3 linked regions of the Homo sapiens genome follow. The protein of the gene in region 2 interacts with the protein of the main gene of each other region in a pairwise test. Each region holds a gene or a part of one and is shown on either strand. Other genes may lie near its edges.

Region 1 (3,749 bases), on a different chromosome or scaffold from region 2:
TTCTGATAACTAGTCCTGACCTCCTTGCAACCTAAAACCAAAACAGATATTCTAGCTCCTCCATTCTGCAGGCCCACACTTTGCTGGCTGATACGTTTTCTTCAATGCCATCATGCCTGAATGAGAGTATTCTCTCACTGGAGAACTCCCTCACAGTTCACTTCAGGAACTGTGAATGGCAGAAGATCTCCCACCAGCCACAGATTTATGGAACCAATCCAGCCAACTAATTTGAGCTACAAATGAAGTATCTAAAGAAGAGCCAGCAAGCATGTCTTCCCCCCGACCATTAATTATAATCTTGTGTACTGCAATCCAGGCTGAATAATACGGCACCAATTCTCCTGGACCAGATAAACTGGGCAGTGAAGAAAACCACCAAGTCAATTAATTTCCATTCCAGCGTTTGCCAGGATAGTATTTACCCAACCTCGGGTAAGTGTTAATACTTCAAATTTTCTAAAATCGAAGCTCCATAGCCTAAGGAATCCCCACAGGCCAGACCCTTTCTCAAGGTCTGCTTCAGAGGTTCTCATACTCATTGGTGCACGTCTAAAATGTCACAGACCAAACTACAGACTAAAATCTAATTCTCAGTGACCCCAACCACGGCCCAGACCCACACTTACCAGATGTCATCTACTGAACAGCCCACACAGGTTCGGAACTAGGCCATCCCGGCCCATCTGGAATAACTCTTCAGTACTTAGGCCAATATTTATTAATTATACTACATCTGTCTATTCTATTATGCATTCCCTGCATCTTCTCTACTATTTAGCACTCCCTCTTGCTTCAAACGCGATCCTTTCTATTCACGGGAACTCCTATCTCCCTTCTTTCCTTCCCTGAGAAACGCTTCAGTTCTTTCCATAATGAAATACCTAACGTATCTGCACAATGAACACCCCCCAGAATCCTCAAGACTCCTCCACAGCCACCTCCCCGCATTCCTCCACCTCTCCGGCATCTTTCCTCCGGCCCCTCGCCCTGTTCGCACTCCCACTACGTTTCCTGCAAGCATTCCCTTTTCTCCAACCCCTGCCCTTCCCTTCTCCCAAAGAGCACACTCCGGCAGCAACAGTGACTGAGGCCTGCGGTGCATAAAGCACTGCACCAGGCACGGTGGACAGAGCCCTGGTGTCTCCCTAGCCTTTTCACACCCACACCCAGCACCCTCCGGCCTCCCCGTGCAAACATCCCACCTCCTCCCCTACCTCTGACACCCGCCTCCAGCCTCGGAGGCCGCCTTCTCGCCTCCGCCACCCCCGTCATTATCCCTCCTCAACCCCCCAACCCACCCTCCGCGCCCTGCTTCCTCACGTCCCCCAGCCAGCCCCAGCGTTTCCCTCGGCCTCGGCTGGCCCCCTGGCCACCCCCAGCCTCGCCACGGCTCGCTCCCCCCGGGGTCAGGCCGTTACCGCCGCGCGCTCCCCCCGCGCGCCGCCCCCTCCCCCTCCCCCGCCCTCCCCCGGGCCCGGGCCTGCCAGGCCGAGCGCTTTACCGCGGGCGGGCGCCGAGTCGCGCGGTCACCGACTGCAGGCGGCGGCAGCTCCAACCTTTCTAGGGGCCTTGAGAGGAGGGGAAGGGGGGAGGGGGGAGAACTTTTGCTGTGGCAGCTTCGGCAACAGCTCCCACCCCTGCGCCTTTCTCCTCTTCCTCCCCCTCCTCCTCCTCCTCCTCTTCCTCCTTCTCTTCCTCCTCCCAGAGCAGTAGAGACGCAGACATGCCGCAGCTAGAGCGCCGCCGCGGTCGCCGCCACTGCCGGCCCGGTGCATTGTGGGAAGCCCCGCACACGGGAAGCGCTCCGCGGCGCCCGCCCTCGTCTGGCGCAGAGACCTGGCTGGAAAGACACAGCGTGGCTTCGATTCCGGCGCCTGCGTGTCACCAGCCCAGGGTGGCCGTGGAAGCTGGACCCGAGCCGCAGGCCCCCCAGGCTGGGCCTGGGAGGAAAGCGGTTTGAAAAAGATCGGAACTGAGGAACTCTCTTAGAGCGGGGGACTCCCTGCTCCTACAGCCTTAACCAATGCCCAGCGCTTGGAAAGTGGAGGACTCGGGGATTCGGGAGCGTTTCAGGCCTGGGGAAATGGAAGGGTCGGGGACCTAGGTGAAAGGTTATTTGCCAGAAATGTCTTGGCTTTTTCATTTATTCTGTCTTACCTAGCCCTTCGCCGCCACCTCCAGTCGTTGGCCTCTTACCACCTTCAAATGCCACCTTTTCCGGAAGATGTAGCCCTGCGCCCTTGAAACTGGCAAACCCTATTAGTGTCTGCAAGCTGAGATGCAGGGTGTGGGCATAGACACAGATCAAGAGATCCGGCCCTGGACCCTCTTGGGCAGAACCTTGCCCTTCTCATTTCACCTGAAGCCCAAACTTTGTATGGCAAAGACTTGGTAATGATCTCTATAGAGCTAGGATTACACAGTTGTCTCATCCTTTGGGGGCCCTTTAGCCAAACTGTGACCTCCTTAATGGTGCCTTCGTCAGCTAACATTAGGCGCCCTGAGGTGCTTCTGCATACTGCCATCGTTTACAATTACTCATCTTTGTGTACACACCCTAGCACAAGGTCAGCCATATAACATAAAAGATGCTCAGTGAATGTTGAGTAATTGTGAGCATCTGGAACTTGCCGTGGGATAAAACGCGTTCATTGGGATTTCTTCATAATAATATGAAGATTCCATTTAGCGCCTCTCTGCAATACTTAAACGTAACCTTTGAGGGGAGAGGGAAAAGAAAAGGCATGAAAATATCTATAGAGCCATTTCTGGTGTTCTCCTTCCCTTTTCCACACCCGCCTTCCCACCCCTTGCCAACTAAATGTTCATTTGAATAGTGCTTTTTGGCAAAATTCCAAACTCCTGCATTATGCACTTGTGATGACACTGAATTAGATTAGTGTCTGCAAGGTTAATGTTCCCTCAGGCATTAACCTTAGTAAATCGTGATGCCTGTTTAGAAATAGCTAAGGCCCAGAGGTTCAGCTTAATTTAGACACAGGTAACTAAGAGCAAGAGTAAACCACAGCTCCACAATCAACTCTCTCTGTGTGCTTTCTCCATTAAAAAATATAAATTTTAATAAGATGACCGCACATATTCTGAATGTTAATTGCAACAAAACAATGACACAAGTTAGAGCCAAGGGACAGTTATCTGGAGGACAGCCTTCTGGCAACTTCTAGCACCCGCAGTGGCATCAAATTCAGACGTCATAATGAAAAACACCTCTGGCAGCAAGAAAGCCGACTCTCAGTATTAGGCAGTGGGAAAACTAATAACTGAAAAGGGCTCAAGGCCTGGAGGTTACATCCAATGGGCTAGGATTGATTGGTTTGCTATTAGGAATAGATCTAGTTCTCTGCTCAGCAGCCTAACAAGCGATAGAGAAACAGCTGTCTAAAATGGGCAGAACGAAGAGCACTACAGGGATAGTAACAGCAAAAGCGATGGTGAGGAGCAAGCTTAGGTCCTTTATAAGTTAAACTGGAAAAACTTCTCAGCTTCAGGTTGGCTCTCCATGCTCCTCTTGCTCACTTCCCTAAACACCACCCGTAGGTACTCAGCCTACTTACTTTTCCTTTTTTTTTTTTTTAACTTTTTATTTTGAAATAATTATAGACTCACAAGAAGTTGCAAAAATAGTCCAGAGTCCCATGCTTTCCCCAATGGTGACATCTTACAAAGCTCTAGTAAGACATCAAAATCAGTGTCAACCTAAATAACAGAGAGGCTTTCTAAAAGAA
Region 2 (3,749 bases):
CTCAATTCTAGTTCATGCTTTTCCAAGAGTTCCCTGGTCACTTTTTGCTCTCTGGTCTCCACCTCTCCGTCCCACCATCTGCCAAATAGGGAAGATACTTTCCTTAAATATTTCACAGGGCTTTTGTGAGGATCCAACAGTAAGATGGAAGTGAAAGTAGCACTTTGAAAAAGTATTAAGTAAGTTGCAAACCATTCTCTATAACCTAAATGTCACCAACCACCAGTCAGGAAGTTTGTCCTGGTCTATTTCACTTCCTCACACTGGAGGAGAGGTATTGGGGTCCCCACAAAGTATTGGAAAGGCAGCATGACTTAGAATGATGCTCTTAGGACTGAGAAACAGGAGACCTTGGTATGAGACTTACTTTGCCTCCAGTGAGCAGGGGAAGGTCACTTCACCATCTTTATCTAAAAAATAAAGGCTTTGGGCTCTGATCCACAGAGATGGGTGAGTCCTAATGCTCTGTGACTCTATGCATCTGGTATCCTTTTCCTGTCCAGGGCTAGAAATATATTTTGTCTTTTCCAGTCATAAGAAAAGTGGGAGGAGCCTGGGCAACATAACAAAACCCCATCTCTACAAAAAAAAAAAAAAAAAAAAAAAGAAAATTAGCCAGGCATGGTGACAAACACCTGTAGTCCCAGCTACTCAAGATGCTGAGGTAGGAGGATCCCTTGAGCCCAGGAGGTTGAGTATGCAGTGAGCCATGATCACGCCACTGTATTCCAGCCTGGGCACCAGAGTGAGACCCTTTCTCAAACAAACAAACAAGCAAATAAAAAATAAATAAAATAAAAGTAGAAAAAGAAAGGAAAGAAAAATGGAAAGGAGAAGCTGGAAACTGAATTTCTGGTATCTCTTTCTCCTAGGACATCAGAAGCACTCTAATAAGGTAAGCAATATAGTTTCTCTCTTTTCTTTTTCCATATAAATATACATACATGTACTGCATGCCTAGTTATTGCCACACAGGTATATAACATTCTCACTTAAGGATACAAATTTACATATAAACCTCTATATACCCAAATGCCTTCTCAGGTATATCCATAGATGCCCAAAAATGGGCAGTGGGATTCATCCTAGAGGAAGTACGTCTGCCTGCAGGAACTAGCGCCATCATGCCCTATTAGAAGATGACCAGCTGAGTCTGGAGACATTATTAAGGATGATAATTCCCAGACCCAGCCATTTCTGTGCCCCTAGATGTGAAACCAGAAAGTGCCGGAAACCGGTGGCTGTGTCGCCAGAGCTGGGCCAGAGGATTCGGGACTTTCCCCAGCAGGCCCTCCCGCTGCAGAGGGAGATGAAGATGTTTCTGGGTAAGAGAACCCCAGGCCTCCACAGAGCGCAGGTGGCCATGAAGCCTGGGTTTAGGAGTGGCCTCCACGCTCCACTGCTGAAAGGTGTGACTTTGGCAAGCCTTATTCCTTCCTGTGCCTTGATTTCCTTATTTGCAGATTTTTATAAAATCTGCCTATTAGGATATTGTGACAATGAAGAAAGAGAATAAAGGTGAATATTTCTGGTGAAAAAGTTAAACTGATTTTAAAATAATTCAACAAATCTGATTAGTGGTCATTAAGCAATATGAAAGATAATGATTAACAATATATCATTCTTAATAAGTTAAAAAATCCCACAGCAACATTTGTAATATGTGATAAGTTTTTGATGATGAACATTGTTAATTAATAGCCAACAACAGTATTTATCTTGACCCTGTGGTATCTGGCTCGTCCCTCCTTCCTTCTCACTTTCTTTCTGTTAGTCTGGCTCAGAGTTAGACGGTCCTACGGGGACTGTGCTCCACTTCCTTTTCCGGAACAGGGAGTGGTGGTAGGGTGTGGGGGAGGGTTTGGATGAGAGTCAGGAATGGGACATGGCTCTCTGCCAACCACCTCCTCACTAACCATGACAGAATGAATGATGACACCAATTTTGAAATGACCCACCCACAGTTATGTCACCCTAGAAGGACTTTTCCCATAATTCCATTTCCTGCAAATACTTCCAGTGACCTGTCAGTGAAGGAAATTTCACTCTAATCAAAGGCTGACCTTTGACTCTCCCCAAAATTATTTCCAAGTGGAATAATAAATAAATGAACCCATTTCTCTATTCACTAAGCAGATATTTCTTGAGCATTTACTATGTCCTGGGCTCTGCGGGTACAGAGGTGAGCAAGGCAGTCATGGTCCCTGTTTGATCAGGGCTAGGGCAGTGGGGCTCCCACCAGCAGCAGCAGCTGCATTGCCCAGGAAATTGTTAGAAATACAGATGTTCAGCTCCACCCCAGAGCACCTGAATCTGAAACAGATGTGTTTTAACAAGAGCTCCAGATGATTCTGATGCAAGCTTGGAACCACTGGTCTAGAGGATTCCAGCTTACATTCTTCTTCTTGTCCCTTCCCTCTTCTTGGCCTCAGTTTTCTCATCATTAAGTGTCTGATGGTTTTGTAAGACTAATAAAATCTCATCCTGGTTTATTTTCTTTACAGAAAAACTATGCTTTGAGTTGGACTATGAGCCAGGTAAGGAGCCTATGTCAGGATGGGAGAGAATGAGAAGTCCTCGGAAAGGAGAGAAAATTTTGCAGGATTTGCACTATGACTATGTTATGACTATGACAATAGTCATAACAAACACCCATGGATACATATACACATCATATATATTATATATACACATATGTGTGTGTATATAATACATGTGTGTATATATAGGTTGTGTGTGTGTGTGTGTCACATTGTTTGTAAGGCTCTCAGGAGAAACATGAAGAAAGGACAAGCACATACACATACTACATTCGTGGTATGAAGCTCACATCCTGATCTGCGCATGTCGAGTAGATAGAAAGATTAATGCAGAATGGGATAAAGTCCATCTGGGAATGCTTTCTGGATAAAGGGGACTTTGATCTGGGTTTATAATCACCTCTTTAGAACGTAAGGAACCCCTGCTTCCTCTCAGATGTCATTTCACAGATGACAGAAGGAGGGCGGCCTGTGGGTGGGAAAAAAATGAACAGAATGGACCCCTTCAAGGCTGTCATTTCTCAATCAACCAGCCTAAGACCCTGGGAGTCACGGAGTTGTTGGAGGGGGTTCTCTAACCCACAGATGGACCTAAATTTATGGAAGCTTCTCAATTTATGAATACTAAAAGTAACAAAACGCAAGGCTCTGCAGCAGTTTTTGGTGGTAAAAAGTGGTCCTCAGACTCTGACAGTTTCAGAATTACTGAGGCAGAGTGAATAACCCAGGGGTGAGCCAGAGAGCCTGCCAGGAGGGAAGACTGTAAATGAGTCACCAGTGCCCTGGGAGGAAAACAGGGAGGAATCATGAAGTTTGGACTGAAGGGAGAAATGTCGCTGCACTGTGGGATAGAGATGGGAGGAGGGGAGAATGTGGTATATCAGCCCCAGGAGATCCAAGCTGGCACGCACAGCTTTGGAAACCAGCCAACTTGCGGTGAGCAGAAGAGCTTTCCCGAGGACCACACTGAACTAAACGAGAGCTTTCACATCCTCTGAGGCAGGCTTTTCAGGCTTTACCTGTGTGCAAATCACCTGGGCATCTTGTTAGGATGCAGATTCTGAGAGCGTATATCTAACAAGTTCCCAGGTGGTTCCACACTGTTGGCCCACGTAGGCACTATACATGTTTTTGGTAATAATAACACTAACAGGAGGGGCCCAGGGGGAGTTTCTATGCCTTCCTTGGAGGTAATAGCATGTCTGCTGA
Region 3 (3,749 bases), on a different chromosome or scaffold from region 2:
TCAGACAGTCTCCCTTGGCAGGTTGTGAGGAGGACAGGCAAAGACGAATATGCAAAGAAATCTTACAGTCATTCCTGTCTTAAAAGAGACTGGCCCTTCCCCAGTTGAGGTAGGCTACCACCATGAACTCAGAGAATCACATGTAATGATTCCACAGGAACAAAAACAGTCTCCCAAGAGAAGAAACACTTCTTGCACAATGAAATGTGAAAACAAGAAAGCAAGCCAAGCCAAAAAGGCAGCTAGTGGGTTCTCATGCTCACCTGGACAGATACCTCTGAGAGCCTCCCTGCCCATAGGTTCCCAGGGATCGAGGCCCCATGGCAGTTCCCCTTGCTCCAGCTGGGAGACCAGAACAGGCGTGGTGAATGGGAATGCTGCCCAGGGAGAAAGAAACAGGAAAAGGTAAGGGGAATCAGGAACCAGGATCCTCTTGCAGCCCCCTTTATCTTTATCTGCTGAGCCAGGTAGTGAGAGACAAGGTGAGTCAGGGAGAAACTTAATCTATGCTGCTGGAGGACAGAAATTTCCCACAAAGTGGCACAGAGTCCCAGAATAATCCCACGCTCACATAAGGGAATCTCAAGTTTTCTTCAGAGAACTTGGAAGACACAAGGGGCTTTGCTGTGCTCCCAAGAGCTCCTTTCCCCCCCATGTTTTGGGTACAGCCCCTCCCAGGGTTGGAGGGACAGGTGATTTCAAAACCTGGGAACGCAGGGCTCTCTCCACCCAGAAACTTCCAGGCAGCTCAGCCTTCAGGGCAACAGAGAGTTATTAGAAACCCCACAAAGTTCTCCTGCCAGGAGCGGTGGCTCACACATGTCTTCCCAGCACTTTGGGAGGCTGAGGCAGGAGGATCGCTTGAGGCCAGGAGTTCGAGACCAGCCTGGCCAACATGGAGAAACCCCATCTCTACTAAAAATACAATAATTAGCCGGGTGTGGTGGCGCCCACCTGTAATCCCAGCTACTTTGGAGGCTGAGGCAGAAGAATCGCTTGAACCTGGGAGGTGGAGGTTGTAGTGAGCCGAGATTGCGCCATTGCACTCCAGCCTGGGCGACAGAGGGAGACTCTTGTCTCAAAAAAAAAAGAAAAAAAGAAAAAAACCCCACAAAGTTCTAAGGAATAAAGAAGCCAGGATGCTTAAAGGGCAGAGGCCAAAAACAAGAAGAAATGTCTTACCCAGGGAAGCCACATTTGCATAATTCTCCAGCATCACTTCCCTGTACAGGGCCCTCTGCACAGAGTCCAGGCTGGCCCATTCATTCTGGGTGAAGTACACAGCCACATCCTCAAAGGTCACTGGTTCCTAAAACAACAAGTTCCTGCTCAAACCCTGTGTGAGGGCAGAGGATCAGGCTAAGTAGTGGGGCAGAGATCTACTGGGTCTAGTGGTATTGCCAAGGACAGTTATCCAGCACTCCACCATGAGGCCAGCCCTCAGCCATCTTTGCCCGCACCAACAGGGGAGTCCAAGGGTCATTGCACCCCTTTGTGGTCATCCCCAGCAAACAGCTCTATTTTCATCTGCTGATCTCTGCTTGCCTCCACTGTGCCCTGCTCTGTGTGCCCATCTGTTCCTCTGGGCTCCTTTCCCCAGTGTGGGTTTTGTGTGCACATGCACAGGGGACATCTGTATAAACACAGTGAATAACACTTTTGTACTGATCTTCACTCTCTCCCTAACCCCATTAAAGTGATAGTAACATAATAGCCCAAGAGAAGAGTCAAAGCAGGCTGGGCACAGTGGCTCACGCCTGTAATCCTAGCACTTTGGGAGGCCAAGGCAGGCGGATGGCTTGAGACCAGCCTGGCGATGTTGCCAACAGGGTGAAATCCCGTCTCTACAAAAAATACAAAAATTCGCCAAGTGTGGTGGTGCATGCCTGTAGTCCCAGCTACCTGGGAGGTTGAGATGGGAGGATCACCTGAGCTCGGGGAGGTCGAGGCTGCAGTGAGCTGTGTTTGCACCACTGTACGCCAGCCTGGGTGACAGAGTGAGACCCTGTCTCAAAAAAAAGAGAGAGAGAGAAGAATCAAAGCCAACTAGAGGTATAAACAGAATTTTAGAAGGCAGAAAGAGAATGAATGATAACTAGACTAGAAAAGCAGACAAAGATGAAACTCAACTTCTGGCAGAAGGGGAAGCAAACAAAAAGGGGCCCAATTCACACCACAGAACTAAGGATGAGCTAAGGATTTTGTAAATGTGCACTGTTGTTTATAACTTGGTAAAATATTCTATCTCCTTAAAAGCAACATAGAGAAGGAAGGACCAACAAAGTATTTAGGACAATGAATGAAAAATATCTACACATAGGCATGTAACTGAGACATCTCAGAAAAATGAGAATACACAACAGATCCTACAGGCTTTCAGAGAAGGAAAAACAACACACACGAAGACTGGGAAGTCGAGATGGCAACAGACTAAACACCAAAAGTAAAAGGGTAATGTTTTTGAAAATGCAGGGATTACAGATTACACCTGTAATCCCAGCCCCTTGGGAGGCCAAGGTGAGAAGATTGCTTCAGCTCAGAAGTTCGAGACCAGCCTGGGCAACATGGTGAAACCCCGTCTCTACAAAATATGCAAAAATTAGCCATGCAAGGTGGTGCTCCCAGCTACTCGGGAGACTGAGGTGGGAGGATCACCTGAGCCTAGGGGAGGTTGAGGCTACAGTGAGCCGTGATCGTGCTACTGTACTCTGGCATGGGTGACAGTGGGACTGTCTCAAAAAAAAAAAAATGCTAAGGGAAAACTTCCAGTTCTTATCTAGGTGGAATCACAGGGGCTGGATTTCCCCTCCTGCCTGAAACAAAATAACCAGACAAATTATATAAAACAATTTTCAAGATATCATGCAAAAAACGACAACAATCCCTGAGAAACAGGAAAGAAAAGAAGTGAGCCCTATAATTCCCTAAGCTACTACCCTGAGGAATTTCCAGGCTGCAACACAGGAAGGGGGAACTGAGGCAGAACCTGGCATATTTCCTTGTAGAGTCTGAAGAGACCAAGGCAGCTTGAGTTTATAGGACAGAATGCCAGAGAGGAGAGGGCTGCATAGAGATGGAATCTCAATTATCAGCAGAAGGTCCCTTTAGAGTATTCAACAAAATACAGATCAGTACATGGGTGTGGGAAAACTAACCAAGGCCAGAGAAAGGATCATTTGGAAAGACTGAAAAGAACGATGCCTGATATTTACACACCATTAATCCTATGGAAAATAGGAAAAAAAAGAGCCAGGCACGGTGGCTCATGCATGTAATCCCAGCCCTTTGAGAAGCTGAGGTGGGCAGATCACTCGAGGCCAAGAGTTCGAGACCAGCCTGGCCAACATGATGAAACTCCATCTCTACTAAAAATACAAAAAATGTGCCAGGCATGGTGGTGTGTGCCTATAATCCCAGCTACGTGGGAGGCTGGACACAAGAATCGCTTGAACCCAGAAAGCAGAAATTGCAATGAGCCGAGATCATACCATTGCACTCCAGCCTGGGTGACACAGTGACTCTGTCTCAAACAAAAGAAAAAAAAGAAAAGAAAGAAAATAGAAAAAGAGAATAAAAGGAAACAAAGAACAGATGGGACCATTACAAAACAAGTAGAAAGATGACAGGCCCAGATCCAGCCATATCAATAATGGTATCAAATGTAAATAATCTAAACATCCCAAAAGGCAAACATTGTCATATTGGACTTTTAAGCAAATAAGAACCTACTATCTGCTTAAGATAGTACA

Evidence for each region.
Region 1: the proteins of TRIM10 (region 2) and ZNF148 interact in binary tests that used the Homo sapiens proteins (3 or more experiments, as listed by UniProt).
Region 3: the proteins of TRIM10 (region 2) and ZNF620 interact in binary tests that used the Homo sapiens proteins (3 or more experiments, as listed by UniProt).

The regions. Positions count from the first base shown.
Region 1 is NC_000003.12:125,373,598-125,377,346, forward strand, and holds the start of ZNF148 (zinc finger protein 148), read right to left. Parts: upstream 1,729-3,749; 5' UTR 1,505-1,728; intron 1,113-1,504; exon of another isoform or gene 630-1,112; intron 1-629. UniProt on the Homo sapiens protein: Involved in transcriptional regulation. Represses the transcription of a number of genes including gastrin, stromelysin and enolase. Binds to the G-rich box in the enhancer region of these genes.
Region 2 is NC_000006.12:30,154,515-30,158,263, reverse strand, and holds part of TRIM10 (tripartite motif-containing protein 10), read left to right. Parts: intron 1-872; coding exon 873-895; intron 896-1,209; coding exon 1,210-1,325; intron 1,326-2,504; coding exon 2,505-2,537; intron 2,538-3,749. UniProt on the Homo sapiens protein: E3 ligase that plays an essential role in the differentiation and survival of terminal erythroid cells. May directly bind to PTEN and promote its ubiquitination, resulting in its proteasomal degradation and activation of hypertrophic signaling.
Region 3 is NC_000003.12:40,509,030-40,512,778, reverse strand, and holds part of ZNF620 (zinc finger protein 620), read right to left. Parts: intron 1,310-3,749; coding exon 1,183-1,309; intron 378-1,182; coding exon 264-377; intron 1-263. UniProt on the Homo sapiens protein: May be involved in transcriptional regulation.